Linked DNA regions of Homo sapiens. The protein of the gene in region 4 purifies or fractionates together with the protein of the main gene of each other region. This does not show direct contact. Each region holds a gene or a part of one and is shown on either strand. Other genes may lie near its edges.

Region 1 (4,371 bases), on a different chromosome or scaffold from region 4:
CAGGCGCCCGCCACCACGCCCAGCTAATATTTTTGTATTTTTTTTTAGTAGAGACAGGGTTTCACTGTGTTAACCAGGATGGTCTCAATCTCCTGACCTCGTGATCCGCCCGCCTCGGCCTCCCAAAGTGCTGGGATTACAGGCGTGAACCACCGCGCCCGGCCTCATTTTTCTCTAATTTTTTCTACTTTTATACTTTTTTTTTTTTTTTTTTTTAGATTGAGTTTCACTCTGTAGCCCAGGCTGGAGTGCAATGGCATGATCTCAGCTCATTGCAAACTCTGCCTCCCAGGTTCAGGTGATTCTCCTGCCTCAGCCTTCGGAGTAGCTAGGATTACAGGCATGCGCTACCACACCCGGCTAGTTTTTGTGTTAGTAGAGACAGGTTTTTGCCACGTTGGCCAGACTGGTCTCAAACTCCTGACCTGAGGTGATCCACCCACCTCGGCCTCCCAGAGTACTAGGATTACTGGCATGAGCCACCGTGCCCGGCCTTATAGTCACTTTTATGTTTGTGCTGCATTAATTCAAGAATTTTGTGAAAGCTATATGAAGACTAAAGGGCTTTGCCAGGAGAGTTCACCCACATACTGGGATTCAAGGAACCACATGCAAATGGCTATTTATTTGTAATTATAAAGCAGCCATTTTCATATTAATGTATGCAGAATGCCAAAGAAGCATTTTTCTTTTTTTTTCTTTGAGACGGAGTCTCGCTCTATCGCCCAGGCGTGATTTCGGCTCACTGCAACCTCTGCCTCCCAGGTTCAAGCAATTCTTCTGCCTCAGTCTCCTGAGTAGCTGGGACTACAGGCGCATGCCACTACACCCAGCTAATTTTTTAATTTTTGGTAGAGATGGGGTTTCACCATATTGGCCAGACTGGTCTCGATCTCCTGACCTCATGATCCACCCACCTCGTCCTCCCAGAGTGCTGGGATTATAGGCGTGAGCCACCACGCCCGGCCTTTACCTCAATTTTTTTAAAAAAATGAAAAAATAGAAGGTACTGAATGGGCCCTATTTGGCACTTCTTGTCTTAGAGCCTTCGTTCCAAATATAGACCCTAGCCTGACATCCACAGAGGGTTTTGATGGTATTGCTGAAGAAAAATGATTCAGTTCATTGATATCCTTTGCTATTAACAGTTGTTAGTCCCCTATGGCTTCATCTGTACAATTATTAACTCCTTCTGTGCCCATTATTGAAATTAGTTTTTAGATGGGTTGTTTCAGCAGAGTTTTCTGTACTATAGCCAGGCTGTTCCAAGAAAGTACCCTTTTCTACCTTCCCAAATGTTGCAATGCCCTTTTGTGGTTCGTAACCCAGAAATAGGTGTTTCAGTTCATGTAAGTGTTGCCATTAAGGAATTGGGTATAGAACCCAACTTGGTTTGTTTGGCCTGTTAGTCTGGCTGCTACCCCTTCCCCCACCCTTACAGTCTGCTCATTTTTTCCCTTGGCTCTTTCTCAGGAGCTGGGGCAGCAGCTGGGCCTTCCACATCCTGGCACAAGTGGGCTAAGAGTGCCTGATGTCTAAATTGGTGCCAGTCACGAGCTATAAGTCCTAACTAGAGCTCTCATTTTCCTCAGTCTCATTGGACGACTTCTTACTGTGGTGCTAGAGTGAGCCTCTGCCCAGGTCAGCTCATAACTGTTGCTGTGAGACCACAGACTTTAGGAGAACTGGAAGTTTAGGATTTCTTCAGACCTCTCTTTCACTTTTTCCAGCATTGGCACAAGCTGACTAGTTAAGGTTCTGCATTTAGAGGTAGGTGGATTAGGAACCCAGAACAGGCTGCTGGAAGTAATTCTCTGGTTGTCACACCTTATTTAGCTATAAGTGTTCAATGTGAACCAAAGCCTTATGAAGATTGTTAGCCTTTTACCCTGTTTCTCCCTTGAAAATACATTCTAAGATGCTTCTCTTCAATATATGTGAGTTACTATTGTGCTGCTAAAATTGCATTTAAAGGCCAGGTGCAGTGGCTCACATCTGTAGTCCCAGCACTTTGAGAGGTCAAGGTGGGTGGATCACTTGAGCCCAGGAATTTGAGACCAGCCTGGGCAACATGGCAAAACCCTGTCCCTACAAAAAAATACAAAAATTAGGCGGGCATGGTGGTGCATGCCTGTAGTCCCAGCTACTCGGGAGGCTGAGGTGAGAGGATCACTTGAGCCTGGGAAGTCGAGGCTGCAGTGAGCCATGATTGTACTACTGCACAGAGCTAGACCCTGCCTCAAAAAAAAAATCCAAATAATATAGGTAGATACTCCTCCCTCCAGGAGGTGGAGTTTAATCTTCCCCTCCCCACTGAATGTGAGCTGGACTTAATGAATACCTTACAAATAAAAGAGTACCAGAAAGAGAAAAGTAGTAACTATAGTGCAGAGACCTGGCAGACATACCTTAACCAAGTGATAAACATTAACATTGCCAGTGATGGAGAAGCCATGTTACTATCTTATATCCCTGATATGATATGTTGAGAAGGGTACTTCACCTCTGTGATATTCTTTTTTAAAACCCATAACCCCAGTCTAAACATGAGGGAAACATCAAACAAATGCAAATTGGGGAACCTTCTATAAAGTACTTCTTTAAAACTATCAAGGTCATGAAAAACAAGGAAAGACTAAGAAACTTTCACAGACCAGGAGAGACTAAGAATTCAAGATGACTAACTGCAATTTGGTATTCTTAATTGGATCCTGGAACAGAAATTTGGCATTAGTGGAGAAACTATTGAAATCTGAATAAAGCCTAGAGTTTAGTTAATAGTGTGTATCAGTGCTAACCTAATCTCTTAGTTTTGACACTCGTACATAGTTTCACAGATGTGTGCCATGTAAGACGTTAACATTAAGAGAAACCGAGTGATGGCTATACGGGAACTCCGCACTGTCATTGCAACTTTGCTATAAATGTAAAATTATTCCAAAATGAAATATTTCTTTTAAAACAATAGTCTACCTCTCAACCCTTAACTATGCATTTTCCCTCCCTGAAGGCAACAAATGTTATTAGTTCCTTTTATATCTTCCAGAGATGTAAATAAATGCAAATAAAAACAATCCCCCCTCCCTTTAAAAACAATGCTACGCACATATTATATACACTGTTTATACACACTGTTATTTTAGATCTTGACTCATTATCAGTATATATGTAGCTTCAGTCTTTCTTCATTTGTCTTTTTAAAAGTAGCTACAGGCCCGGTGTGTTGGCTCATGTCTGTAATCTCAGCACTTTGGGAGGCCAAGGCAGGCGGATCACTTGAGCTCAGGAGTTCGAGACCAGCCATAGGCAACATGGCAAAAGCCCCATCTCTACTAAAAATACAATCCAGCCTGGGCAACAGAGCAGGATGCTGTCTCAAAAAATAAAAATAAAAAAGATTAAAAAATAAATAAAAGTAGCTACAGAGAATTCCATTGTATGGATGTACTATAATTCATTTAACTGGTTTCTTATTGATGGGCATGTGTTGTTTGCAGTCATTTACTGTTACGAATAATGCTGTATTGAATAACGTTATACATGCATTATTTTGCACTTTCACAGTACAGTTAGCCCTCCATATCTGTGTGTTCTGCATCCTTGATTCAAGCAACTGCAGGTCAAAAGTATTTGGGGGAAAAAATAGCAACTGTACCAAACATGTATAGACTTTTTTCCTGTCATTATTCACTAAACAATACAATGTAACAACTATTTGCGTAGCACTTAGATTGTATTAAGTATTATGAGTAATCTAGAGATGATTTAAAGTATACAGGAGAGTGTCCATAGTTTGTATGCAAATACTCTTACCATTTTATATAAGGGTCTTGAGCATCCACAGATTTTAGTATCCTCAGGAGGTCCTGGAGCCAGTCTCTCATGTATATACCAAAAGATGACTAGATAGCTAGAGGATAAACTTCTAGCTTTCCTGGGTTAAAGCCTATATGTACCTGGAATTCTAAAGATGTTATATTGCCCTCAATATAGGGTTGCACCAGTTTATAATCCTACCTACAATGTTTAAGAATGTCTGTTTCTGAATATCATGACCAAACATAATATATTGCTAAGTTTTTTGTCTTTGCCAGTCTGTTAGATTTTCTTAAAAAGTTTCTGTGTAGTTTAATTTACATCTTTTATTGTAAATATGGTTGAGCACCTTTTCGTACATACTTGTAGTTCCTTTTATGTGGAATGCCTGTTCATTTTTTTGTTTTTGCCCATTTTGTTTTTTTAATTTTATTTATTTATTTATTTTGAGACAGATCGTCACTCTGTCACCCAGGCTGGAGTGCAGTGGCACGATCTCGGCTCACTGCAACCTCTGCCTCCCGGAATCAAGTGATTCTTGTCCCTCAGCCTCCC
Region 2 (4,371 bases), about 32 Mb from region 4:
ACTTTCTTCGGGCTCTTCATGCTCATCTTGGCTTTTCTGGGCCCTGTTGCGTTTCCTTAAAACTGTAAAACCAGTTTCTCAATTCACAGGTGCCCTCCTCACTCTACTGGGAGCTTCCATCAGTGGAGAAAACCGGTGTTTTTGCACAGCACCAGCCTGACATGGACAGAGGAAGCCAGACACGCCAGGACACATCATATGATCCCACGTCGAGCTGAAAATGAGGCCAAGTGGATCACTGCTGTTACAGCGAGCACAGGGGCCGCCGGATGAGCTCAGAAGTCCCTCAGCCCAGGGGCTGCTGTGGATGCGCACCCCTGGACAGTGGCCACCTGCAGGGATGAGGCGGCTTCTCACAGCTGGTCAGGTGGTTCTGGGTTCAGGTGCTGGCTATCCAAATATGCTCACTTAGTAACCACTCATTGAGCCAGACACTTGTAATGTGGCCACATGTTTACACTTCAATAGAGAATTTCCTAAAATGTACTTCCTGGGTGTGAACTACGTGCTGTGCATCAATTAGAGAGCAGTGTGCACCAGCGTCTGCCCTCTGGGCCGATGCCCTGGGGACCATGAGGGGTCTGAGCCTGCGCCGAGCCACGCCTTTCCCAGCCAGTGCTCAGACACCCCAGAGCACAAGCTAGGTCTCTGTGGCCTTGTGTTTTCAGCCTTGCCATGCGCTGGGAACAGCGGTGTCCCTGCGATGTCAATAGTGGCATCAACTCCCAAGACCTACCGCTAGGCAAAGAGTGGTGTGGCCCAACCCGGGGGGTGGGCTCTGAGCCTCACTTTCTCCTGTAACTAGGCCTGACAATACCAACCTCACAGGTTTGGAGTTCATGAGGCGCTGTGTCGGCAGCTTTCAGGACCCTTTACACTCTCAAAAGTTAGGGAGTCCAAACAGCTTTTGTTTATTGGATAACTGTATTCTCTAAACTTGGAAATTTAAAAAATATATTAATTCATTTAAAAATAACCCATTACGTGTTAGTTATTTCTCCAAAAATAAGCTAAGTAAGAAGAGTGGTCCTGTCTCCCATTTCTGCAAATCTCCTTACTATCTGGCTGAATCGGAGGCAGCTGGGCCCTGGGGTCCACCTCTGCTCAGTCCACCCTCCTGGGCTCTGGGGACGCTGTGGGGAAGCCAGGCCTCATGGATGCCTGAGGCTGGAAAGGGAGATGGGTTTGTTTTTACAGCCTTTCTGCATGGCTGGGAGTCTCCAGCCCTGAGGCCACATCAAGCTGGACAAAGGTGGGTTTCTGCAGGCCTGTGACAACTCTTTGCCACTCCATCCCCATGTGACTTCGTGACACTCTGCTGGTCATTCAGGAAGGATCTCCCACCGAGTCAAGTAGGTCTTCCAAAGGCTGACACATTTCACTGGCAATGGTGGAAACATTCCATCTGTCACCCCCACAGACCTCACCAGAAAAGTCTCTAGGTGTTGGGAAGACACCAAGCTCATGGCAAGCGACGTTAAGTTTTCCAAAATTCTGGTTTTCACTTGAATTTTACTACTGTAACAGATGTTGCCACTAGTTCTCCATGAAGCGACAGGTTCGATCATTTTTGGAAAAAGTCTGCCCAACACCTTGGGGTGAATACCCAGGGTGTGTCCACAAGGACTTCCTTCAAGCGCCGGCATACCCAAAGGTGTCACGAGAAATTTTATCTGGTCACAGTGAAACACTCGAGGCTTAGTAAGATGTACTGTTCACTTCCTCATCCAGGGCGTTTCTTACTGTGATCCGGGCACAGTCTGGCTGCTCTGGGCTGACTCTTGCAGAAGCACCAGGGGGTCACCAGCAGTGTGAGCGTCAGCAGAGTGAAAAAGGGCAGGTGAGGCCTCTGTGTTATCCAGGGAAGCCGGACACGGTCTTGCGGGCCCCAGGGGCCCAGGCCCTGAGAACAGCTGTTCTTCATGAAGCACTGAATGCACAGCCCACGTTAAGGCCCGGGCTCAGCTCCCCTAACAGCCTGTCCTGGCTGCTGTGCATGCTGCCACATGAGGCTTGGATGAATTCTCAGGCAATGACTGAGTTTTACAGAGGACACAGGCTCCCCACATGCCCCAGAGACACCACTTGATCCAAGACCATACCATCAAGACCTTGGGCACAAAGTGCCCTGACCTCAAGCAGTGGCTATGTGAAGCCGCTCAGGGGAAGCTGATGGGCCAGTTCCTTCTCCCCAGTCCACATTCCCTTGATGCCGCTTCTCTGTAGAAGCCCCTGCCCTGGGCAGAGCCCCGTTACCTGCAGTGACACCATTCTGGAGGGAGCCCTCGTAGAAGATGTTGGATGGGAAGGCGCTGAGTGCAGGGTGCATCCGGTACTGGACCTGCAGGCGGATGGGCCGGATGCCCAGCACCACCAGGCGCTCGAAGAGCGACTGTGACAGCCCGGCCTTGGCCGCCTTCTTGCACATCACCACTGGGCCCAGCTGGCAGTGGTCGCCTACAAGGATCAGCTGTAGGAACAGGGGCCCCCACAAGTCAAGAAGCTCAGGTGTGAATCAGCCTCAACACACACTAGCAAGGAAGTAGGGGCCCCAGGATGCACAGGACACCACCTGGCCACAGGGGCATTGCTCACCACGCACACTGGACGTGCAGCTGGCAGAACCCACCCTCTATAAACCCCTCAGGGAGCCCCCAGTGTGCGCACACTCTGCTGGGCATCCTACGTCAATACAAGGTGTTTTAAAAGACAAACACCAAGAATCACACACACGAGTTTTCACACAGGAGGGCAGGGGAGGCAGCCCACCTGCTTGGCCCCGAGGACCACGGGAACCATGCACTCCGGCTCGGTGGCCTGGGTGCTTTCGTCGATTAAAATGGAGCGGAACTGCATCTTGGCCAGCCTCGGGTCACCGGCGCCCACACATGTGCAGCAGATGACATCTGCGTTCTGGGGAAGGGTGCAGAGGCATCAGGGCACCTGCACTGTAAACGCCACCAGACCCCGGAGGGCAGGTGGGACAGAACACAGAAGCTCTCCTGTTTCTCACCCTCCCTGACACTATAAAAAACAAGCTGTCCCTCCCAGACAAGATACATGGTCCAGGCTGTGGTGATTACAAACTTTTAAGATCCTTAAACGGTCATGTTTCACAGAAGGCAACCTCTCCACACCAAGAGCTCTGCGCCTCACGACAGCCTCCAAGGGGCAGTGCTGAGCTGCTGGAACCTGCACTCAGGCTGATTCCAGTTCAGGCTGGTTGGTTATGAAAGAGCAGGAGTGTTCTAGATCCACTGCCGGATCCCAGTGGAGGCTGGCAGGGAGTGGAGACTCCCTAGAAGACCGTGTTCCAGGCAGCGAGATGTCCCTAATTTACTGTACAACTGAGCGCAGAGAGGCCAAGTAGAGAGCATCTAAGTTCTCTTTCCAGAAGCAAAGCAACAATTCAAATAGGTGCTTTGGCCCAAACAAAAACCATCAGGCCGCCAGCCCACAGGCCCTTTTGCAGGCAGGAGGGGCACTCACCATCAGCAGCTCTCTCTCTGCGGTGCGCTTCAAGGCCCGGTACCGCTTCTCGTCGGCAGACGACAGCTCCCCAGTCTCGTCTTTCAGCTGCTGCAGCTTCTGCAGCTCAGGCATGCTGGAAGCACATGCAGGTCAGCAGGGTGCCTGAGTTCTGTACATGTCACCCGCAGAAGCTCAGGGACCAACTGGGAGGGATGGACTCGACACACACCTGTCCATGTTCCTGATCTGGTTGTGCAGGGCCAGAAAAGACACCGGGGAGTCGATGGCCTCACGGCTCTTGGCGCAGAGGCGCACGACCTTTAGCCCCGTCTGGTGGATCTTCTCCGTTAGCTGGTCCACGGCGATGTTGCTCGGAGCACACACCAGCACCGGCCTGCAACACCATTGGGGCAGCTCAGTGCTTACCCAGAGGAAGCTCGGTGAACGTAGTAAGCCAAGACTCTGTTTTTTGAGACAGGGTCTTGCTCTGTTGCCCAGGCTGGAGTGCAGTGGTGTGATCTCAGCTAATTGCAGCCTCAACATCCTGGGCTCAAGCAATCCTCCCACCTCAGCCTCCTGAGTAGCTGGGACCACAGGTGCACGCCACTACCCCCAGCTAATTTCTGAATTTTTTTTTTGTAGAGACGTCTCACCCTGTTCAGGCTGGCCTTAAACTCCTGACATTTTTAACAGGCAGTAATGACACGATGCCGAAGGAGCTCAGATCCAGACAGCCCAGGCTTCACAGCTCTACCCACCGCAAGCAATGCCAAGGCTGGAACTTGCACCATCCCGCCACACTATAAAGTGCCGCACACGGAACTCACGCTGCTGCAGCCATGCCCCCCCTGCCCCCAGTTTTCTAAACCAGTAGCAGACCTGGTTACTAAAATGCAATCC
Region 3 (4,371 bases), on a different chromosome or scaffold from region 4:
GACTTGCTCAATTTGGAACTTTTTACCAGATTAATGTATCCCAAACAATGGCTGAAGTACTCATTCTGAAGATTAGGACAAATCTCCATTGACTTAGCAGATTTAAATTTAGATGTGTACAAATTGCCTGGGTCAAAGGCAGCTAAGCCATTTAAATGTTATATCTAGTTTCATTGGTTTCAGTGTCCAGCAAGAGTGCCTTGCAGTGAATTTTAGGTATCCATGATTCTTTGGTTATTTTGGTTTCCCCTGTGGAGCTTTTCTTGGTTTCTAGGAAACTGGAAACTTGCTTATTTGAATTTCTAGGATGATTTTTTTCATTTTTAGGTGAATGGAATCAGTGAAAATTCATCCTGACTCCCTTGATGTTTCTTTTTAAATAATCAGAAGAGCATGCAACATATATAAAATAAAAATACTTTCAACAGGTCACCAATAATATATAAGAAGTCCCAGGGAAATGGAAACAATTTTGAAATATGCTATCCAGCTGTGGCATTATCTTAAATTTTTATTCAAGTTACAGCTTTTTAATAAATGCTAAAATATAAAAGCTGCCCTGTGCTGATTAGACATATTTAATCAGCATATTTTCTTTGTTTTTAATGTTCTGCCAGTGATGTCCAATTTTATACTTTAATCCTTGCTTGTTTTAAATAGTAAAAAATATGTTTAGTCTGTGGTAAGGTACATAAGTTGTTTCTTCTCCAGAGTGAAGTCACCCTGCTGAGAAATGAAGTGGCACAGCTGAAACAGCTTCTTCTGGCTCATAAAGATTGCCCTGTAACCGCCATGCAGAAGAAATCTGGCTATCATAGTGAGTAATGTTCCATTACCTATAGCCTTAGGCTACGTCAGTGAAATACCGTCAGAGTGAACTGAGCTGCTACTTTAAAAATGGAGACTGTGCTTCTAATATTCAAGATTAAATATCAGAATTTCTGTAAGGTTATTATAGAATGCAGTAGAGAGGTATAATTTTTTAGAATCTAGAGAGTTTGAGTTTTCCTGTTTCTAGCTTTTTTCCTAAGCGTTACTATAGATCAACAAAATGGATTAGCTAATAATTTAAAATATACTGTAAGTACTTGATGATATTTTGTTCATCTTCTCAGGATAACACTTTGTCTTAGATTGACAGGGTGAAACACTACTTTTTTCCCAGCCTCCGTTCATTAATGATGATATTTTTCTTTTTAAAATCAGCTGACTGCCTTTAACAATATATGATATCCCTTTAAGGTATCAGATCCTATTGTTCTTTCTTAGATAATGTCAGCATTGTGTAACGTTTTTATTGTTGTAAACCTTTATATTGAGATATCTAGTTAGTTTATAAAAATGTTAAAACGGGAACAGTAGTTAAATTATCTGCTTGTAAATTTCCTGCTAAATGTTTTCCCAAAGAATGAGATTCTTTTGTTTTCAGCATTTTAAAGGTTAATTGTGCCTTTTCCTTTTTGTAATGTCCTTCTTTTTTGATAAGATGCACAGTGTTGGAACCAGCTGTTACTCTTGAATAAATGGCCAATTTTGTCCATAGTATACAAATTTGTAACAAACAACAGAGTTGGGAATGCATTAGGCAACATTTATAATATATAACCCACAGTTTTAGTCTTTATGATTTAGTGATATTTCAGGATATTAGTAAATGTGAAGATTGTTTCAACCATATGTATCCACTTCATTTTAATTTGCCAGTGTCAGTAATTCAAAAGAAAGAAACATTTTGTATTGGATGCAAACAGTTCCTCAGGTGCTCACGATAAAACTTAATGGCCACCATCTTTACTTGTAGTCATTATAAGCAGTTTCATCAGAATGGGCAATATTTTTTAATTTAAAAGATTCCGTAGATTTAGCTACTCTCAATTGCCATATATATTTAGAACGCTGATTTTTGTCAGTTTTGAGCATATAAATCTTGCTTATTTGATATCTAGTAATTTTGACAGGATGGTGAAACACATTGGAGTAAATTGGAACCATATAGAAATATGTTTGGGATTTATATTAACAATGATTGCTTCAGGGATGAGGCCATTATGGTTCCCATCTGACTTAACAACATAATTTCCTATAGAAGCTACTAGTTCAGCATTTATGCATACGTGATTTTCTTAACAAGAAATCTCTCTTGGATTTTCATAGTTTAAAAGGAAATAAATTGTTTTATAAAATTAAAAGGAAATTAACTGTTCTCTTAAATTGTATCCAATTCAGAATTACCTGTAATTTTTAAATCTTTGATAATTTATTAGATAATCCCAACAGTTTTGACTCTATTATCCAGGCAATGTATGCTCAGCAGATGCAAACCAGTTATTCATTTGACAATTGATTTACAAGATATCTTAAGTGTATAGATGCGTAGGTTTATATACTGTATACTTAAATGACTGAAAATCTAGATTAATACATTTTTAGTACATAGAGTACTAAGTTATGAGAATATAAGAAATGAATAGGATATGTTTGTTGTTTGGAAATAATCCTATCTTTATTCCTGTCTAGTCATGTAGATAATCAAATTAACTGAAATATAGTTCTACCATAAAATTAATTCTCTTCAGATCTTGGGAGATAATTGGATTTTGTAGAAATTTTCAGGTAATTTATATTTTCAAGTTTGAAATCTTTGAAATAAGTCTGACTTCTCTGTTGTGTAGTAGTAAAAATAGATACAGAAATTGACTAAGTGAATACCTTTGAAAAATTTACACTCTTCATTATGTTGTAGCACACAGCTCTTGCTAACAGTGGTGAGTTGTAATACTAGCTAAATCTTTAAAAACATTTGGGAATCAAAACTAAGATTTAGTAGAAATTAAGGAATGTTACAAAATCTTTCAAGTAAAGGTGGAAGTACTAAGTCACAGCCATAGGGTCTGTCCCGCCCAGTTTTAGCACTGAAAGTCCTACTTCCTAAGAAGACCCCTCAGTCGTGGGAAAACCATGACAGTTAGTCACCCCAACAGTTAAGTAATATAAAACCTGAATGAAAATACTAAGAGTACATTTTAAATATTTGGGTTCCATGAAAAATAAAGCACAAAAGTGATCTTATTGCCATGAATTCACATTCTTTAGATCTGGGCATAATTAAAGTTGTATTATAATTGTCTCTATAATTATAAATGGGAAGAAAAGCTTCTTGGGGACTAATCAACCACAAATACTTTTATTACTGAAAATATGTATAGGCCAGGCACTGTGGCTCATCCCTTGTAAGCCCAACACTTTGGGAGGCCAAGGCGGGAAGATTGTTTGAACCCATGAGTTCAAGACCAGTCTGGGTGAAATAGCGGGACCCCATCTCTACAAAAAATAAAGTTTAAAAAAGCCAGGCATTTTGGCACACACCTATAGTCCCAGCTACTTGGGAGGCTGAGGCAAGAGGATCACTTGAGCCCAAGAGTTCAAGGCTGCAGTGAGCTGTGATCGTGCCATAGCACTCCAGCCTGGGCGACAGGGAGACCCTATCTCAAATAAGGAAAAGAAACTTGTGGACATAGGTAGAGAACTTTCAAGATTACTGAATTGCCAAACAGCTGGTTTCTTTTAGCTTAGGTAGAGCTGGAAGTGGCTCTTTGAGTACAGCATGGTTTTCTGTATCTCTCTAGTGCTTGTGATTACACCAGTCATTTTCTCCCCTCACCTAGAACTGGACATAGGTGCAAATATATCACATTGTAAAGGTATTTGATGTGTATGTAAGGTTTATAATTACATAATTGTGAGTACCTGATTCTTTGTACTGCTTAAAGATTTGCTTTACCTAATTCTGAAAGTCTGTAGGTAAGCATTCATCCCTTATAATTTACTGTTTCATTTTAAGTTGTTGACTCCAGTATGTATTTACGTTTCCTTATACCACTCATCACAGATCAGCCTCTTTATTTTTAAAAGCTGGTGTGTCCCTTGAACTCAACATTCAGGGAAACGTCAGCCTGTTGTTCTTTTAAAGAATAGTGGTGAAGTTAGAATGGTGATCATTAAAAAGTCAGGAAACAACAGGTGCTGAAGAGGATGTGGAGAAATAGGAACACTTTTACACTGTTGGTGGGACTGTAAACTAGTTCAACCATTGTGGAAGTCAGTGTGGCGATTCCTCAGAGATCTTGAACTAGAAATACGATTTGACCCAGCCATCCCATTACTGGGTATATACCCAAAGGATTATAAATCATGCTGCTATAAAGGCACATGCAAATGTATGTTTATTGCAGCACTATTCACAATAGCAAACACTTGGAACCAACCCAAATGTCCAACAATGATAGACTGGATTAAGAAAATGTGGCACATATACATCATGGAATACTATGCAGCCATAAAAAATGATGAGTTCATGTCCTTTGTAGGGAC
Region 4 (4,371 bases):
TTTTTTGTGTTTTTAGTAGAGACGGGGTTTCACTGTGTTAGCGAGGATGGTCTTGATCTCCTGACCTTGTGATCCGTCTGCCTCGGCCTCCCAAAGTGTTGGGATTATAGGCGTGAGCTACTGCACCCAACCCCTTTTCTCTTTCTTTTTTTTTTTTTTTTTTTTTTGAGACAGAGTCTCGCTGTGTCGCCCAGGCTGGAGTGCGATGGCACGATCGAGGCTCACTGCAACCTCCACCTCCCAGGTTCAAGCGATTCTCCTGCCTCAGCCTCCCAAGTAGCTGGGATTACAGGCGTGAGCCACCACGCCCCGCAAATTTTTGCTTTTTTGTTATTGTTTCTTGAGATGGAATTTCGCTCTTGTTGCCCAGGCTGGAGTGCAATGGCACGATCTTGGCTCACCACAACCTCCGCCTCCCAGGGGGCGCTGGGGTGTAGAAGTGATTCTCCTGCCTCAGCCTCCCAAGTAGCTGGGATTATAGGCACCCGCTTCCATGCCCGACTAATTTTGTATTTTTAGTAGACAGGGTTTCTCCATGTTGGCCAGGCTGGTCTCGAACTCCCAATCTCAGGTGATCTGCCCACTTCGGCCTCCCAAAGTGCTGGGATTACAGGCGTGAGCCACCGCGCCTGGCCTATTTTTGTTTTTGTTTTTGTTTTTTTTAGCAGAGACTAGGTTTCATCATGTTGGCCAGGCTGGTCTCCATCCTCACCTCAGGTGATCTGCCCACCTCAGCCTCTCAAAGTGCTGGGATTACAGGTGTGAGCCAGTGCACCTAGCCCACATGTCCTCTTTGTGTAGTGACACCGTCGTGAGGTGAGGGCCCACCCCAGTGACCTCATCTTCACTTGACCCCCTGCGAAGACATATTTCCAAATGAGGTTACATTCTGAGGTGCCGGGGGTTAGGGCTTCAACATCTTTTGGGAGAACATGGTTCAGCCCTTAATGAGATATATTGCCTTATTTTCCTGCTTTTCTCTATGTCTGGCCAGCTTGGTAATGGAAAAACAAAACAGGCTGGGTGTGGTGGCTCACGCCTCTAATCCCAGCACTTTGGGAGGATGAGGCGAGAGGATCGATGGAGCCCAGGAGTTCAAGACCAGCCAGGGCAACATAGCAAGACCCTGCCTCTATTAAAGAGAAAACAAGAAAAAATCCATTCTAAAATACAGAACAAACTCTTAGGACCCCCAGTGTATATTCCACAGCGTGGCGCTGATGCCCGGGCCATGGTACTCCTCCTCCCCTTCCCTGGGTGTCCCTCACCCTCTGCCCTGTCCCCAGCTCAGGCTTCTTCTGGCCTCAGTCTCCCCCAGGCTGGGCCCCAGCACCCTGCAAGGCCTCCTGCAGCCAGGCGCCCTCCAGCGCCCTCAGCATCCATCTCAGCCCAGCTCCACGCCGCCTCCTGCCTCTGCCCCCACCTGGCCGCCTGCTCACAGTGTCCCCAAATCTCTTCCTGTTTCCTGCCTAGGTACAGCCCGCAGACACTGGGCTCCATCCTTGGCCCCCAGTCCATCAGGGCCCCTGACTCTCGCTATCCCAGCCTTGGCTGCAGCTTAGTCCTTACTCCGGACTCCCTCCCCAGTCTCCAGCCACCCACACCCAGCCCCAGACCGTCTTTCTGCCCCCAGGGTTGCTCTCGACCCCCTAGGGTTGTTATAAGGATGTTGTGGTTGGTCTCAATCTCCGTTCTTCAGGCTTATGTGACGGGGACCCGCAGCCTGCTGCACACCCTGCCTCTCCTCCTCAGGTACAAACATTCCCTTTCCTGGGCCGTGTGGCCGGCCTTTGCTCCAACATCCGGGACTCTTCATTCCAGTCCAAGCAGACGGGCCGGCGGGACACCAAGGTTGTCAGCATGGTGGGCCGCGTGCAGATGGACATGCTGCAGGTATGGGCGGGAGGTGGGGTGTGTCCCTGTCCTTGGAAGGCCACTGCCCAGGCCCGCAGCCCACCAGCCCACCCACCCACCTAGGTGCTGCTGCGGGAGTACAAGCTCCGCTCCTACACGCTCAATGCCGTGAGCTTCCACTTCCTGGGCGAGCAGAAGGAGGACGTGCAGCACAGCATCATCACCGACCTGCAGGTGCCTGCTGCCTCCCTGACCTCTCACCCCAACCTCTGACCTCCACCTCACCCTTCCCCGGCCTCTGACCTCAACTTCACGCCCCCACGTCTGACCTCACTCTTTGACCTGCTGTTATGACCTGTGACCTTACCTGACGCCCACTTTTTCCTGACCTCTGACCCCAGATTTCTCTCCACTCCTGTGACCTCTGTCACTATGACCTTGTCTCTGCTTTCCTGGCCTGACCACAGGTCCACGGTGGCCTTCAGGCTGCTCCCTCCTCCTCCCTCTGGCCCTGTGGACTCCCTGGCCCCCAACCCTACCTCCATCCCCACCCAGACCCTGACGACTTGGAGGGCCCTCCTGCCCGCCTCACCTCCCAGGCCCTCCCCAGGCTACCTCACCCTGACCCCCACTTCCTTCTCCTGCTCCACCTCCCACCCCCAACCCCTGGTCCCTGACCCCATCCGTGCCCATCCCCAGAATGGGAACGACCAGACCCGCCGCCGCCTGGCTGTGTACTGCCTGAAGGATGCCTACCTGCCACTGCGGCTGCTGGAGCGGCTCATGGTGCTGGTGAACGCCGTGGAGATGGCGAGGGTCACTGGCGTGCCCCTCAGCTACCTGCTCAGTCGTGGCCAGCAGGTCAAGGTCGTATCCCAGCTGTTGCGGCAGGTCAGTAGCCGAGACTTGTCCTCGCCACCCCCCACCAGGCACGTCTGTGGCCCCCTCCAGGCAATGGCATCCTGGATGCACTTTTTCTCCCCACTCCCAATCCGCACGGCCCCACCTATACCCACTCCATTTCCCACCTTCTCCCCTCCCAGGCCATGCACGAGGGGCTGCTGATGCCCGTGGTGAAGTCAGAGGGCGGCGAGGACTACACGGGAGCCACTGTCATCGAGCCCCTCAAAGGGTGAGGCCCCAGGCTGGGTGCAGTTTTTACCTGTAATCTCTGGGAGGCTGAGGTGGGAGGATCACTTGAGCTCAGGAGTTTGAGACCAGCCAGGGCAACATAGCGAGGCCCCTGCTCCACAAAATTTTTTTATTTTTATTTATTTTTATTTTTATTTTTTTGAGACAGAGTCTCGCTCTGTCACCCAGGCTGGAGTGCAGTGGCGCAATCTCAGCTCACTGCAAGCTTTGCCTCCCGGGTTCACGCCATTCTCCTACCTCAGTCTCCACAGCAGCTGGGACTACAGGCGCCCACCACCACGCCTGGCTAATTTTTTTTTTTTTTTTTTTTTTTGCATTTTTAGTAGGGACGGGGTTTCACCGTGTTAGCCAGGATGGTCTCGATCTGACCTCGTGATCCACCTGCCTCGGCCTCCCAAAGTGCTGGGATTATAGGCGTGAGCCACCGTGCCCGGCCGAAAAAATTTTTAAAAATTAGCCAGGCGTGGTGGTGCATGCCTGTAATCCCAGCTACTTGGGAGGCTGAGCTGGGAGGATGATGAGCCCAGGAGGTGGAGGCTGCAGTGAGCGATGATTGCGCCACTGCCCTCCAGCCTGGGCGACAGAGCAACACCCCGGCCCTAAAATAAATTAATAGGCCAGGCACGGTGGCTCACCCCTGTAATCAATCCCAGCACTTTGGGAGGTCAAGGCAGGCGGATCACAAGTTCAGGAGATTGGGACCATCCTGGCTAACACGGTGAAACCCCGTCTCTACTAAAAATACAGAAATTAGCTGGGCATGGTGGCGGGCGCCTGCAGTGCCAGCTACTCGGGAGGCTGAGGCAGAAGAATCGCTTGAACCCGGGAGGTGGAGGTTGCAGTGAGCTGAGATTGCGCCACTGCACTCCAGCCTGGGTGACAAAGCGAGACTCCGTCTCAAAAAAAATAAAATAAAATAAAATAGTAGATTAATTATATATATTATTTTTCTTTTTCTTTTTCTTTTTTTGACACAGGGTCTCACTCTGTCACCCAGGGTGGAGTGCGGTGGCATGATCTTGGCTTACTCCACCTCCTAGGCTCAAGCAATCCTCCTGCCTCAGGCCCCTGAGTAGCTGGGACCACAGGCGTGCACCACCACACCTGGCTAATTTTTAAAATTTTTTTGTAGAGATAGGGTTTTGCCATGTTGCCCAGGCTGATCTGAAACTCCTGAGTTCAAGCGATCCTCCTGCCTCAGCCTCCCAATGTGCTGGGATTGCAGGAGCGAGCACTGCTCCCAGCCAATGAATGATTTTTTTTTTTTAAAGGGTGAGGCCACAAGACAGGGCGGGGGCGGCATGGGAACTCCTAGCCCTGACTCCCGGCCGCGGCTGCTCCCCTCCCAGGTACTACGACGTCCCC
Region 5 (3,440 bases), on a different chromosome or scaffold from region 4:
TGGGCAGCATTCCCCAGATATCTTTGAATATAGAACCTTGTGTTCACCTAGCATCTTGGGAGACCAGTAGTCCCTGGAAGACATTTTTGGAAAATGACTTCTTGGATTGGCCCGGGATGAGAGCTGCCAGGGAAGATGGGAGAAGTAGAGAAAACAGTACTTATCCCAGGAAGACTTCCCTGCTCAGCCCTGTGGGTTTTTGTTTGTTTCTTACCCATGATTTCATTAGAGCCTTATGCTAACTTGGCGGGGAGGGGAAGTAAAGGAGAAAAAAAGCTATGTGCATTGAGCACCTCCTAAATGCCAGGCAGTGAGCGAGGCAAGGTAGGTCTGTCTCAAGATGCCTCTTGGCCCCGGGGGGATAGATATTGTTAATCTCACTTTACAGATCATGAAACCAAGGCCCAGAGAGGTTAGTGTACTTGCCAAGGTCTCAAAGCCTGTGAATACTAAGGTGAGGATAGCTAACATTTATAAAGAGCTCACTGTGTGGCAGGCACTGTGTGGGGCACTGAATGAGCTCTGTTCATCCTCAAAATAGTCCTGTGATTATTATGAGACTGAGGCTTACAGGGGTTCAGTAACTTGCCCAAGGTCACCCAGGAAGCCACAAGATCAGGATTTACCCAAGCAGCCTGATTTCAGAGCCCCTGCTCTGAAGTGACCCCCATTGCTCTGGAAATCGCCGGTCATCCTCCCCAAAAGAGCGTTTATCTCACCCCAGGTGCCAGGAGCACAAATCTGGTTAGGGAGTGGGATTGCACTGATGCTCACATGGAAGGACTTTCCCCCTGGAACCCAGGAAGCCACCTCTGCCATGTGCTGCCTGGCAGGGCCACGGCTTCTGTAATCACTCCAGGCCTTCCCTACTACTCCAGGCTGGCGGCCATTGCCCTGCTGGTCCTAGAGGAGGAGGAGAGCGCCTTCTGGTGCCTGGTGGCCATTGTGGAGACCATCATGCCCGCTGATTACTACTGCAACACGCTGACGGCATCCCAGGTAAGTGGGGCCAGGAGGGGACTTTGCAGCCATGTAGGGCAGTGCCCCAGAGCTGTTCCTAGAAGCCTGTGACTCTCAGGAAAGTTGGGAATCTCTCGGGCTTCCATTTCTCCCTCTGCACTGTGGGAGTGCATTTGGCTGCATGGAAGAGAAGCCCAACCTAACAACAGCTTCAATCGGGGATTATTATTCTCAGATAGTGAATGACAAGGCAGTACCGCAGGGTTCAGGCTCCTAGCTCCCTGCTCTGCCATCTCTGGCAGGTGGCCTTCATCCTCACACCCATCACCTCCTGGTCACAAAATGGCTGCATCGCCTCCAGCACTGTGGGCATGGCCTAGGCCAGGAGAAGCAGAAGGTGAACACCAGGAGCTGGCTCCCTGACCCAGCAATTTCTACTTGCAGTTTACTGGTCAGAACTATTTCATGGCTGCCCTAGTTGCAAGGCAAGTTAGGAAATGTACATATTTAATTTTTACATCTTAACATCTCTGAAATTGATGTGTGTTATATGACCCTTTTTTCCATATTTTATTATGGAAAATTTCCCACATTCAAAACGATAGAGGGAATAGTATAATGAACCTCCATGTGTCCATTACCTGGCTTCAGTTATCAACCCAGGGAGCCAGTGTTATTTCTTCTGAACTCCCATCCGCTCCTCCTGCTTTGTCTTGAAGTAAATTTCTGGCATTGTATCAGTTCATCCATAAATCCTTCAGTAGGTCAATGGCATCTTAGACTTGGGGAGTTACCTTAGGTTTTGAACTGGACACTTGGCCTCGGTAGATGACCCAAGGTTCTGGGTGAGGGAGGAGGGGAGCTACTGGCTGTTTGCCACAGCTGACGCTAATGCCTGGAAGAGGACATAAGTGAGAGGAGAGGACTGAGCAGTTCCAGGAAAAGCAAGGGGAAACTGAAATGGAGTCATCACAGAGGGAGGAGGAGAACCACGAAAGAACCATGTCTTGGAGCCAGTGCTGAGAGTGGTTAACCCATCCAGTGAAACAAGGACGGAGGCATGACAGTGGTCACAAGAAGAGGTCACTGGCCAGTGTCGCCAGGAGCACCCTGTTTTGAGAAGATTCCTTGATGTCCGGCGAGGCAGGACATTATGCGTTCCCACACACACCTGTCCCTGGACCAGACATCCGCCTAGCATCTTAGGTGTCAGGCACAAATTGGGTATAGAGAAGGGGCTGTGGTTGTCAGCTGATATAAGCCTAGAGACAAAGCTTCCATTTCGCCAAGGCCCCTGGGCATGAGACCAGTGTCTCTGAACTGCCAGCAGGATCAGCTGGCCCCTGACCTCCTGCTTGGCTCAAGGGATTCAGATGGGTGAGCGGGCGGAGAACGTGCCAGCCCACATGGCTCCACTGCAGAGCCCAGTGCCCCAGTCCAGAGGACTCTGGCCTATATTAGGAGCAGCGGAGTGATATGATGCTGTACCTGACTCCCAGCTAGACTGGCCCCTGGCTCCCCGAGGTGTCTCCTGGGCAGGAAAGGACCTGCCCAGAGCAGCTTCAGGATTGTGTGTGGACTGACTGGGTAGGAAGGCTGGGCAGGGAGGGAGGCAGCCCTACGCTGGGGCTGCAGATGACAGGCCCTCTCGCTGGCTTCCAGGTGGACCAGCGGGTGCTCCAGGACCTGCTCTCGGAGAAGCTGCCCAGGCTGATGGCCCATCTGGGGCAGCACCACGTGGATCTCTCCCTCGTCACCTTCAACTGGTTCCTCGTGGTCTTTGCGGACAGTCTCATTAGCAACATCCTCCTTCGGGTCTGGGATGCCTTCCTGTACGAGGGGACGAAGGTAGGGTGCAGCCAGGGGATGGGCAGGGGGCCCCTGAGCAAGTCCCTTCACCCATCTGCGTCTTGACTCTGCCCCTGGAGAATGGGAAGACAATGCTTACTTGTCAGAGCTGTTGAACGTCTCCTGAGAGCATTGTCAACTGCAAAATGCTTTGCATGTATGAGAAGTAGTGGTTCTGCCTCTGAAGTTGGGGGATTTCCTTTCCGTGGAGAGGAGGTGTGAGCATGATCAGAGAGGCACATCCCTATGCTGTCCTTGCCCCCTAGTCACCTGGGCCCTCCTTTTCTTCCTCCTGTTTGGACTAAACCTTGGATTAAGAGATCGGAGCTCAGGTCTGGACCCAGCTCTGTACTGACCTTGCCCAGAGACCTTGGGCAGGTCCCCCAACTCAGCCCTAGTTTACACCTCAGTTTACAAAGCACCCACAGATTTCTCATTTCTTTCTTTCTTTTTTTTTTTTTTTGAGATGGAGCCTTGCTCTGTCACCAAGGCTGTAGTGCAGTGGCACGATCTCCGCTCACTGCAACCTCTGCCTCCCAGGTTCAAGCAGTTCTCCTGCCTCAACCTCCGGAGTAGCTGGGATTACAGGCATGCAACACCATACCTGGCTAATTTTTGTATTTTTAGTAGAG
Region 6 (4,371 bases), on a different chromosome or scaffold from region 4:
TCTTTCCAGCAATCTCTCTGTCTGCTATGCCACAAGTGACTTGACTTGCTATTCCTAACAATCAGCAAGGCAGAAGGTAGAGCCAGCCATGCTAGAGACATTCATTAATGTTCTTATTAGAGTAATGAACACCTTGGTTTCTAATAAGGATGTTCATTGGAGAAATAAGAGCACTTCCAATGAAACCTGCACATGGTATCCTCATTTTACACTGGTGCCTTCTCAGTGTCCATTTTGGACTCACCATTTGCAGTGGCTGTCTGTGTGCCAAAATGCTTTGTGCTTATGTCTTGTGGTGCTTTGCCTTTTGCTTAGTAATTTACATGATGCCTTCACCCTGAGATGAACCTTGTGTGATACCTTCACTCTGAGACTTGAAATTCTTCTATTTTGCCTAAGAATCTCTCTGATTATCCGACACTTGGAGGTATTCTCGAGAGATTCATAGCAGCAATGTAAAAAACAATGGCATTTTTGAACATGCGTAAATATGGCATTAAATACAGAGTTCCTACTCAGTAGAGATGGAACTTCACTATTTGGTTGTATAAGGCCTTTAGATTTTTAAATCAAATGCCAAATAATTCTTGTTATTAATCTCTAATGGCAAGATAATTGTACCATCATAAGTATGTTATTCTCAGGCTCAAGGCAAAATTATTCCTGCAATGGATCTCTCCTTTGGTGACCAAGGTATTTGTCATTCCAAGTACTACATAAAAACAGTCCCAACAGAAACGATCTGCCTATCACTTAAAATTTGTGGGCTGTTTCCCATTAAGTTATATCAACATGCTGGTTTGCTACAGAAGCATACTTTGAAGTATGCATTGGTTCACTTAAAGGTTGACCCATTTAAAGCCAAAGGAAGCCGGGCACAGTGGCTCACACCTGTAATCTCAGCACTGTGGGAGGCCGAGGCAGAAGGATGGTGTGAGCCCAGAAGTTTGAGAACAGCCTGGGTGACATGATGAGACCTTGTCTCTACAAAAAAATTAAAAAATTAGCCATATGTGGTGGTGTGCATCTGTTGTCCTAGCTACTCAAGAGGCTGAGGCAGGAGGACCACTTAAGCCCAGGAGGTCAAGGTTGCGGTGAGCCATGTTCATGCCACTGCACTCCAGCATGGGCAACAGAGTAGTGAGACCCTGCCTCAGAATAAAAGCCAAAGGAGTCTTGATCCTATTGCCACAAAGTGATTAAACCACTTCGTTCAAGTGGATAACACTTTAACATTAATAGCATCCTTTTAGTAAATTACTACTCTTATGCACTAGTTGTTCACCTGAAAGATTAAGTGTACCTGCAGAGATAGGGGGCTTTGTCTAGTCTAAATTTTAAATATTTGGTATACTGGGTTTTTAATAGAAGATAGTGTCCCAGCCTTCAAAATAAAAATAAACATTTTATCTTTAAAGCTGCTCAAGAAGCCAGAAAAAGGAGATGAAAAAGAATTGGACAAAAGAGAAAAAGCCAAGAAATTGGACAAAGAGAATCTCAGTGATGAAAGAGCCAGTGGGCAAAGTTGTACATTGCCCAAGCGTTCTGATAGCGAACTTAAAGATGAAAAACCAAAGAGGTCAGTAGTCAAGGACTCTTTGTTATGTTTGATTTATACATGCTAGTTTTGCTGCTATGTCCTGGACATGTACCTGAATTAAGATAAGCTGTTTTATGCAGGGCAGGGGGATGAGGAGGAACAGTTTCAGAATATTCTTGTATCTTAATCTGGGTGAATGGTTTTGGGGTTTTGTTCCTTCTTAAAACACTAGTATTTTTCACTCTGCTCTAAAAGTGCAACCTCATTGCAGGGGCCAAATCAGAATCACAGTGTTCCTGCATTTGTGATTACAAGATCTTTCAGGGTTCTGTCTCAGATTTGTTTTTCATGCAGACCTGAAGATGAGAGCGGCAGAGACTATAGGGAGAGGGAACGGGAATATGAACGAGATCAGGAGCGCATACTTCGAGAAAGAGAGAGGCTGAAGCGGCAAGAAGAAGAGCGCCGTAGGCAGAAGGAGCGCTATGAGAAAGAGAAGACTTTTAAGAGAAAAGAAGAAGAAATGAAAAAAGAGAAAGACACACTTCGGGATAAAGGAAAGAAGGCTGAAAGTACAGAATCAATAGGCAGCTCAGAAAAAACTGAAAAGAAAGAAGAAGTGGTCAAGAGAGATCGAATAAGAAACAAGGTGCTGCTTGTCATTAAACTTGTTTATGAGGGTTTTTTTCCCTTTTCCTGCAAGTGTAAAGAAAGTGTAAAGGGCACTGTTATTATAGAATTTTTAAAGGGGAACTTTAATCATCTGCAACTTTTTTTTTTTTTTTTTTTTGAGACAGAGTCTGACTATGTTGCCCAGGCTGGAGTGCAGTGGCACAATCTCGGCTCACTGCAAGCTCCGCCTCCTGGGTTCACGCCATTCTTCTGCTTCAGCCTCCCAAGTAGCTGGGACTACAGGCGCCCACCACCACGCCTGACTTATTTTTTTGTATTTTTAGTAGAGACAGGGTTTCACCGTGTTAGCCAGGATGGTCTTGATCTCCTGACCTCGTGATCCACCTGCCTCAGCCTCCCAAAGTGCTGGGATTACAGGCGTGAGCCACCACGCCTGACCAACTTTTATTTCAGTCTTGGCTGGGCTTTTATTAACTTACTATAGAAATTGTAAACATACACAAAAGTAGAATAGAGAATAGTATGATGGGCCAGGTGCAGTGGCTCACACCTGTAATCCTAGCACTTTGGGAGGCTGAGGTGGGTGGATTGCTAGAGCCTAGGAGTTCTAGACCAGCCTGGCCAACATGGTGAAACCCCGTCTCTACTAAAAATACAAAAAATCGGCTGGATGTGGTGGCGCACACCTGTAATCTCAGCTACTCGGGAGGCTGAGGCAGAAGAATCACTTGAACCTGGGAGGTGGAGGTTGAGGTGAGCCGAGATCACGCCATTGTATTCTAGCCTGGGCAACAGAGCGAGACTCAGTCTCAAAAAAAAAACTGGCCGGGCGCGGTGGCTCACGCCTGTAATCCCAGCACTTTGGGAGGCCAAGACGGGTGGATCACGAGGTCAGGAGATCAAGACCATCCTGGCTAACATGGTGAAACCCCATCTCTACTAAAAATACAAAAAATTAGCCAGGCGTGGTGGCGGGCGCCTGTAGTCCCAGCTACTCGGGAGGCTGAGGCAGGAAAATGGCGTGAACCTGGGAGGCGGAGCTTGCAGTGAGCCGAGATCGCGTCACTGCACTCCAGCACGGGCAACAGAGCGAGACTCTGTCTCAAAAAAAAAAAAAAAATCGAATAGTATGATGAACTCCATGTACTGTACCCATCACCCAGCAGTTCATAGCCAACCTTCTTTCTATTCTACTTCATCCCTACCCCTACTAGATTATTTTCAAACAAACCCTGCACATAATTTCTTCCTTAAATACTTCAGTATATGAGATAAATACTCTATTAATATTACCCTAGTAGCATTTTCACACCAAAAAAAACTAACAATAATTCCTTAACGTCCTGTCTATTCAGTGTTCATATGTTCCCAATTGCTTCATTAATGTCTTTTTAAAATTAATTAATTATTTATTTTTTGCGATGGAGTCTCGCTCTGTCATCTAGGCTGGAGTGCAGTGGCATGATCTCAGCTCACCACAACCTCCACCTCCCGGGTTCAAGTGATTCTCCTGCCTCAGCCTCCCGAATAGCTGAGACTACAGCCTCAAGCCACCATGCCCGGCTAATTTTTGTATTTTTAGTAGAGACAGGGTTTCACCATGTTGGCCAGGCTGGTCTCGAACTCCTGACCTCAGGTGATCCTCCCGCCTCAGCCTCCCAAAGTGCTGGGATTACAGGCATGAGCCACCGTGCCCAGCCTAATGTCTTTTTTTTAATAGGACCTAAACAAATTCCACAAATTATGCTTCCTTGAAATGTCTTCTTCAGTTCTCTTTTGTTTTTAGTTTATTTTTTGAGACAGAGTCTTGCTATGTCACCCAGGCTGGAGTGCCGTGGTACAATCTCAGCTCACTGTAGCCTCGACCTCCTGGGCTTAAGCCATCCCCCTACCTCAGCCTCCAGAGTAGCTGGGACTACAGGCATGCATCACCATGCCCAGCTAATTTTTAAGTTTTTTTGTAGAGATGAGGTCTCCCTATGTTGCTCAGGCTGGTCTCAAACTTTTGAGCTCAGCCGATCCCCTCAAAGTATTGGGAATAAAGGTATGAGCCACTGCACCCAGCCAAGTTTTCTTTTAATCTAAACAATTTCCCCTTCTCTTGTTTTCCTACCATTTGTTGCAGAAACCAATTTGTCTTGTAGGGCTTTTCCTGTTCTGAATTGGCAGATTACATCCCCATGCTGTTATTTAACGTG
Region 7 (4,371 bases), on a different chromosome or scaffold from region 4:
GGAGCTCTCCACGTCATCTTCTGCATGCATGGAGGCACTATCAAAGAAGTACCTGTCGTGAGGAATAAATGAGTTAATATGGAAAGTGCCTTGGAGCTGTCAGCTGCAGCTGCCACACAGAGTGGTGCCCCCAACAACGTCTGTACCACAAATCGAGCTGTTTCTCCCACCACCTCCAGTCCATAATGTTATGGCCGAGTTTTTAGGAAATGGCAGAAGTGAGTGTAGACTCTTAAGAATGCTGTTAGAAAAAGCGGATTCATCCAGTTCTTACTTGCTCAGTCAACAGGTGACTGCATAGGAAAGTGGCTTGCAGGGCTTTTCTGTGTTTCTTATCTAAAGTCATTCTCTCCTGACTTTACATTTCTGCTTAACAGGCACTTATATCATCTTTGCCAGATGTTTCCTGAATCTGCAAGTGACGCTATCAAATTTGTTCTCCGAGATGCGATGCATGAGATGGAAGAAATGATTGAGACCAAAGGCCGGGCGGCATTGCCAGGGTTGGATGTGGTAAGCAGAGTTCAGTCTAGGCACTGCCCCTGCCACAGAAGTTCTGTTTGGCATCACAGAAGGTGGACGACGGGTACGATGCTCTTGGCTGTACCCTGTGCTTCCAGGGTGATGTGGAGTGAGCTGCACGGCAGCGAGGGTGATCTGGAGTGAGAGTGCACGGCAGTGAGGGTGATCTGGAGTGAGAGTGCACGGCAGTGAGGGTGATCTGGAGAGTGCACGGCAGTGAGGGTGATCTGGAGAGTGCACGGCAGTGAGGGTGATCTGGAGTGAGTGCACGGCAGCGAGGGTGATCTGGAGTGAGAGTGCACGGCAGTGAGGGTGATCTGGAGTGAGAGTGCACGGCAGTGAGGGTGATCTGGAGTGAGAGTGCACGGCAGTGAGGGTGATCTGGAGTGAGAGTGCACGGCAGTGAGGGTGATCTGGAGTGAGAGTGCACGGCAGTGAGGGTGATCTGGAGTGAGAGTGCACGGCAGTGAGGGTGATCTGGAGTGAGAGTGCACGGCAGCGAGCCTGGGAGGGGAGGGCACTCCTCCACTAGCCATGGACTAACGTGTGGGTCGTGCAGGGAGATTCTGGTTTGATTCCACGTGAATGGTGCTGTATTTGGTCCAGTGACAAAAACATTGGAAGGCAAATAGAACCACGGTATTGTCCTTAAGGGCCCAAGCCTGTGGGCTGGTTTAAATTGGTCTCGGTTTCTATGTTATTCAAAGGTTGGGAGACATTTGTACGCTGAGATTTTTAACAATTTTATAACAGCCTCATGCTGTATTTTCAGCTTTAGTAACTTTAAGGAAATACTTGCTGAGATACGCTCTTTATTCTGTTGCCTGGTGTTTGTGTTGAAATGGATTCACAATAGTTAGCAGAAGCTTAAAAATGTAGGACTTAGGTTAGTGATTTTTAATCAACTCCCCAAAACATGATCTGAGCCCGTGTCTATAACCATTGTTGACTGCTTTGAAGTCTTCATGGGCCTCAGTGTCCTCACTGCACGTTTAGCTGGTTGACCCACGGTGGTTGGACGCCTGTTCTGTGACACTGAGGCCAGAGCTCTGGGCCAAGGAGATGCACCCTCTCCTCGCCAGATCCTGTTCTTGGCTCCGGAGTGTTTGCGGGGAGGGCATATGGATGGACTTCATTTACCTTCTTTAACCTGTGGTAACACTTTCTTTCCAGCTCATTTATTTGAAAATCACTGGGCTGCTATTTCCAACTTCCGACTTCTGGCACCCAGTGGTGACCCCTGCCCTCGTGTGCCTCAGTCAGCTGCTCACCAAGGTGCGTTCTCTCCACATGCGGCAGGGGTCGGCCTGCTGCACCACGGGTGGCCGGAGCCACAGCCCCTCGGGGCCTTGTGGAACATGAGTGTGGCTGTTTAAGGGCTGCAGAGACCGAGCACTGCGGTTAGGCCAAAGAGGGCCCATCTAAAAGAGCCCCGGCTCGAGCAGCCCCAGATGTGGGTGGGAGTGGGAGGGCCTGGTTTGGCACCTCAAGGTTACAGATGGTGCTACCCCAGAAAACAACCTTTCAAGTTAGTGGTGAAGTTATCCAGTGTGATGATAAGGGCTTTTGTTCCCTTTTTGGCTTAAAAAGTTCAAGCTGTTCCTTTTTCTTTATTAGGCATGTGATTGGTACATGCTTAGTGCAGTAATCGTACGCTCTGTATGGGTGGAAGGAACTTTATAATCAGTATAGCTCTGGCCAGGCGCGGTGGCTCACGCCTGTAATCCCAGCACTTTCGGAGGCTGAGGCGGGCGGATCACCTGAGGTCGGGAGTTCAAGACCAGTGTGGCCAACATGGCGAAACCCCGTCTCTACTAAAAATACAAAAATTAGCTGGGTGTGGTGCCACATGCCTGTAATCCCAGCTACTCGGGAGACTGAGGCAGGAAAATCACTTGAACCCGGGAGGTGGAGGTTGCAGTGAGCCGAGATTGTGCCATTGCACTCCAGCCTGGGTGGTAAGAGTGAAACTCCGTCTCGGGAAAAAAAAATCACTAAAGCTCTTTATCTTGTTTTCATCTCATTTGATGCTCTCGACACTGCTATAAGGTGCGGGGGTTCCCTCTGTACTTGTGAAGCTCAGTGGGGTGCGTGGTTCATCAGGGAAGCCCGGTGGTCGGCCTAGCATGGCATGACATCGTCCCAGGACAGTAACCCCCCATATGTTCCTTTCCAGTGCCCCATCCTGTCCCTCCAGGACGTGGTGAAGGGCCTGTTCGTGTGCTGCCTGTTCCTGGAGTATGTGGCTTTGTCCCAGAGGTTTATACCTGAGCTTATTAATTTTCTTCTTGGGATTCTTTACATAGCAACTCCAAACAAAGCAAGCCAAGGTGAGTTGATTTGAGGGAGGTTCCTACAAATATGTTATACTTTAGAATTTTTTTAAGTAGTTCATACTCATTGTAGAAAGTTTAGAATATGCGAAAGTAGAGGAAACACACAACCTGCCACCCGCCGCACTGTCTGTCCCTCTGTGTGAGCGTGTGCACGCGCCACATGGGGAAAAGCAGTGCTACCGGTGACCTGTGCTGTCCAGCGTGGTTGCCAGGGGCCAGAGTCTGAACTGAGACGTACCCTACCTGTGACATATGCCCAAGTGGCGAAGACTTAGTGTCAGAAATACTTAAAATATCTTAATTTTTTGTATTATGTGTTAAAATCATAATATTTTGGTATTTGGGGTTAGATAAGGTCTATTGTTAAAATCAATCTTAACTTTTTACTTTTTCTCACGTGACGACAAGGCAGTGTGAAAGTTCTCGTGCAGCTCACACAGGCCGCGCTGCTGTGTCGCTTCTCTTAACGCTCTGAATTCAGGAGCGAGGGCGGCAAGAGCAGTGTTGGGATGAGGAGCAGTCTGCACACTGGCTGCCCTCCTGGGCCCTCACCCCAGCCCCTGTGCTCCTCCCCCTTCCCCTGATGCCAGCCCTGCTCCTGGATGCTTCCTCAGCACTTGCTGCTTCCCTCTGGGGGGTGAGGAGCTGCACAGCCTCTTCCTGAGCTCTTCCATGTCTGTGGACGCCTCTCCCAGCCTGACCAGAGGTTGGACCTCAAGGCTCAGACCCCTGTCCTCTATTTCCAGCTCACCGTGCAGTGCTAAGCGCCTGCATGTCCAGGGGACTGACCTGAGGAGCAGGTGCTGTGGCATCATTCACACCACCAGCAGAGTCCCTTCCAAGAGGGGTCTGGCCCACTCTTCCGGTTCAGTGCTCCCATTCTGCCACCACCTGCCTCCCAAGGCTCCTGTCTGTCAGGCTCGGTGCTGGGCGCCAGAGGGGCGCGGCCGCCCACATGCTCCCTGCCTCCGGGAGAGCCACCTGTAGATAGCTGCAGTCCCACGTGTGAAGGGCTGTGACGGAACAGGCTGGGCACAGGTGGAGTCAAGGAAGGGGTGGGCATCTCGGCTTTGGGGAAGTGTGGGGCGGGGCCTGACCCACGCCTTCCCCTCTCGCTTGGCCCGGCACCTCTGCCCCACTGTACCCACTCTCCACCCCTCCCCGTGTAGCCACACCCTCGGCCTGGATTGCCCTTCTCCGTGGCGAGTGAATTGACTCCTGCGTCCTACAGGCCTTTGCTGACGTCTGCCCCTCAGGCCTCTCCCGCCCTCCACCGTCACCCCCGACTGACTCTCCTGTCTCCCTCCTGCCCCTCCACTTTCCTTTCTCGTGTTCTGTCTGGTCCATTTGCTCCTCTGGGTGCTGTGCACTGCCTGTCTCCCCGACAGGGGCAGGGACTTCAGTCTGTTCCCGGATGTGGCCTGAGCGCCTCATCAGCCCCATGTGTGCCTAGTAGGCCCCAGGAAGTCTGTGGCCAGCAGGCCTCTCAGGCAGGATCAGGCACTTGGCTCTC

The links.
Region 1: the proteins of POLD1 (region 4) and MMS19 purify together in Homo sapiens (affinity purification with western blotting; 3 studies listed by BioGRID and IntAct, with this or other methods). This does not show direct contact.
Region 2: the proteins of POLD1 (region 4) and UPF1 purify together in Homo sapiens (affinity purification with western blotting; one study listed by BioGRID). This does not show direct contact.
Region 3: the proteins of POLD1 (region 4) and ATF2 purify together in Homo sapiens (co-immunoprecipitation; one large-scale study listed by IntAct). This does not show direct contact.
Region 5: the proteins of POLD1 (region 4) and TBC1D2 fractionate together in Homo sapiens (co-fractionation; one large-scale study listed by BioGRID). This does not show direct contact.
Region 6: the proteins of POLD1 (region 4) and UPF3B purify together in Homo sapiens (affinity purification with mass spectrometry, with the first as the bait; one large-scale study listed by BioGRID). This does not show direct contact.
Region 7: the proteins of POLD1 (region 4) and NOP14 purify together in Homo sapiens (affinity purification with mass spectrometry, with the first as the bait; one large-scale study listed by BioGRID). This does not show direct contact.

What each region holds. Positions count from the first base shown.
Region 1 is NC_000010.11:97,487,982-97,492,352, reverse strand, and holds part of MMS19 (MMS19 nucleotide excision repair protein homolog), read left to right. Parts: intron 1-4,371. UniProt on the Homo sapiens protein: Key component of the cytosolic iron-sulfur protein assembly (CIA) complex, a multiprotein complex that mediates the incorporation of iron-sulfur cluster into apoproteins specifically involved in DNA metabolism and genomic integrity.
Region 2 is NC_000019.10:18,855,419-18,859,789, reverse strand, and holds part of UPF1 (regulator of nonsense transcripts 1), read right to left. Parts: intron 3,866-4,371; coding exon 3,701-3,865; intron 3,605-3,700; coding exon 3,490-3,604; intron 2,914-3,489; coding exon 2,770-2,913; intron 2,471-2,769; coding exon 2,257-2,470; intron 1-2,256. UniProt on the Homo sapiens protein: RNA-dependent helicase required for nonsense-mediated decay (NMD) of aberrant mRNAs containing premature stop codons and modulates the expression level of normal mRNAs.
Region 3 is NC_000002.12:175,077,106-175,081,476, reverse strand, and holds part of ATF2 (cyclic AMP-dependent transcription factor ATF-2), read left to right. Parts: intron 1-711; coding exon 712-817; intron 818-4,371. UniProt on the Homo sapiens protein: Transcriptional activator which regulates the transcription of various genes, including those involved in anti-apoptosis, cell growth, and DNA damage response.
Region 4 is NC_000019.10:50,404,430-50,408,800, forward strand, and holds part of POLD1 (DNA polymerase delta catalytic subunit), read left to right. Parts: intron 1-1,752; coding exon 1,753-1,893; intron 1,894-1,977; coding exon 1,978-2,088; intron 2,089-2,553; coding exon 2,554-2,745; intron 2,746-2,897; coding exon 2,898-2,986; intron 2,987-4,277; coding exon of another isoform or gene 4,278-4,355; coding exon 4,356-4,371. UniProt on the Homo sapiens protein: As the catalytic component of the trimeric (Pol-delta3 complex) and tetrameric DNA polymerase delta complexes (Pol-delta4 complex), plays a crucial role in high fidelity genome replication, including in lagging strand synthesis, and repair.
Region 5 is NC_000009.12:98,200,847-98,204,286, reverse strand, and holds part of TBC1D2 (TBC1 domain family member 2A), read left to right. Parts: intron 1-859; coding exon of another isoform or gene 860-878; coding exon 879-999; intron 1,000-2,622; coding exon 2,623-2,808; intron 2,809-3,440. UniProt on the Homo sapiens protein: Acts as a GTPase-activating protein for RAB7A. Signal effector acting as a linker between RAC1 and RAB7A, leading to RAB7A inactivation and subsequent inhibition of cadherin degradation and reduced cell-cell adhesion.
Region 6 is NC_000023.11:119,835,575-119,839,945, reverse strand, and holds part of UPF3B (regulator of nonsense transcripts 3B), read left to right. Parts: intron 1-1,418; coding exon 1,419-1,579; intron 1,580-1,894; coding exon 1,895-2,189; intron 2,190-4,371. UniProt on the Homo sapiens protein: Involved in nonsense-mediated decay (NMD) of mRNAs containing premature stop codons by associating with the nuclear exon junction complex (EJC) and serving as link between the EJC core and NMD machinery.
Region 7 is NC_000004.12:2,942,554-2,946,924, reverse strand, and holds part of NOP14 (nucleolar protein 14), read left to right. Parts: exon of another isoform or gene 1-52; intron 53-377; coding exon 378-513; intron 514-1,695; coding exon 1,696-1,797; intron 1,798-2,698; coding exon 2,699-2,852; intron 2,853-4,371. UniProt on the Homo sapiens protein: Involved in nucleolar processing of pre-18S ribosomal RNA. Has a role in the nuclear export of 40S pre-ribosomal subunit to the cytoplasm.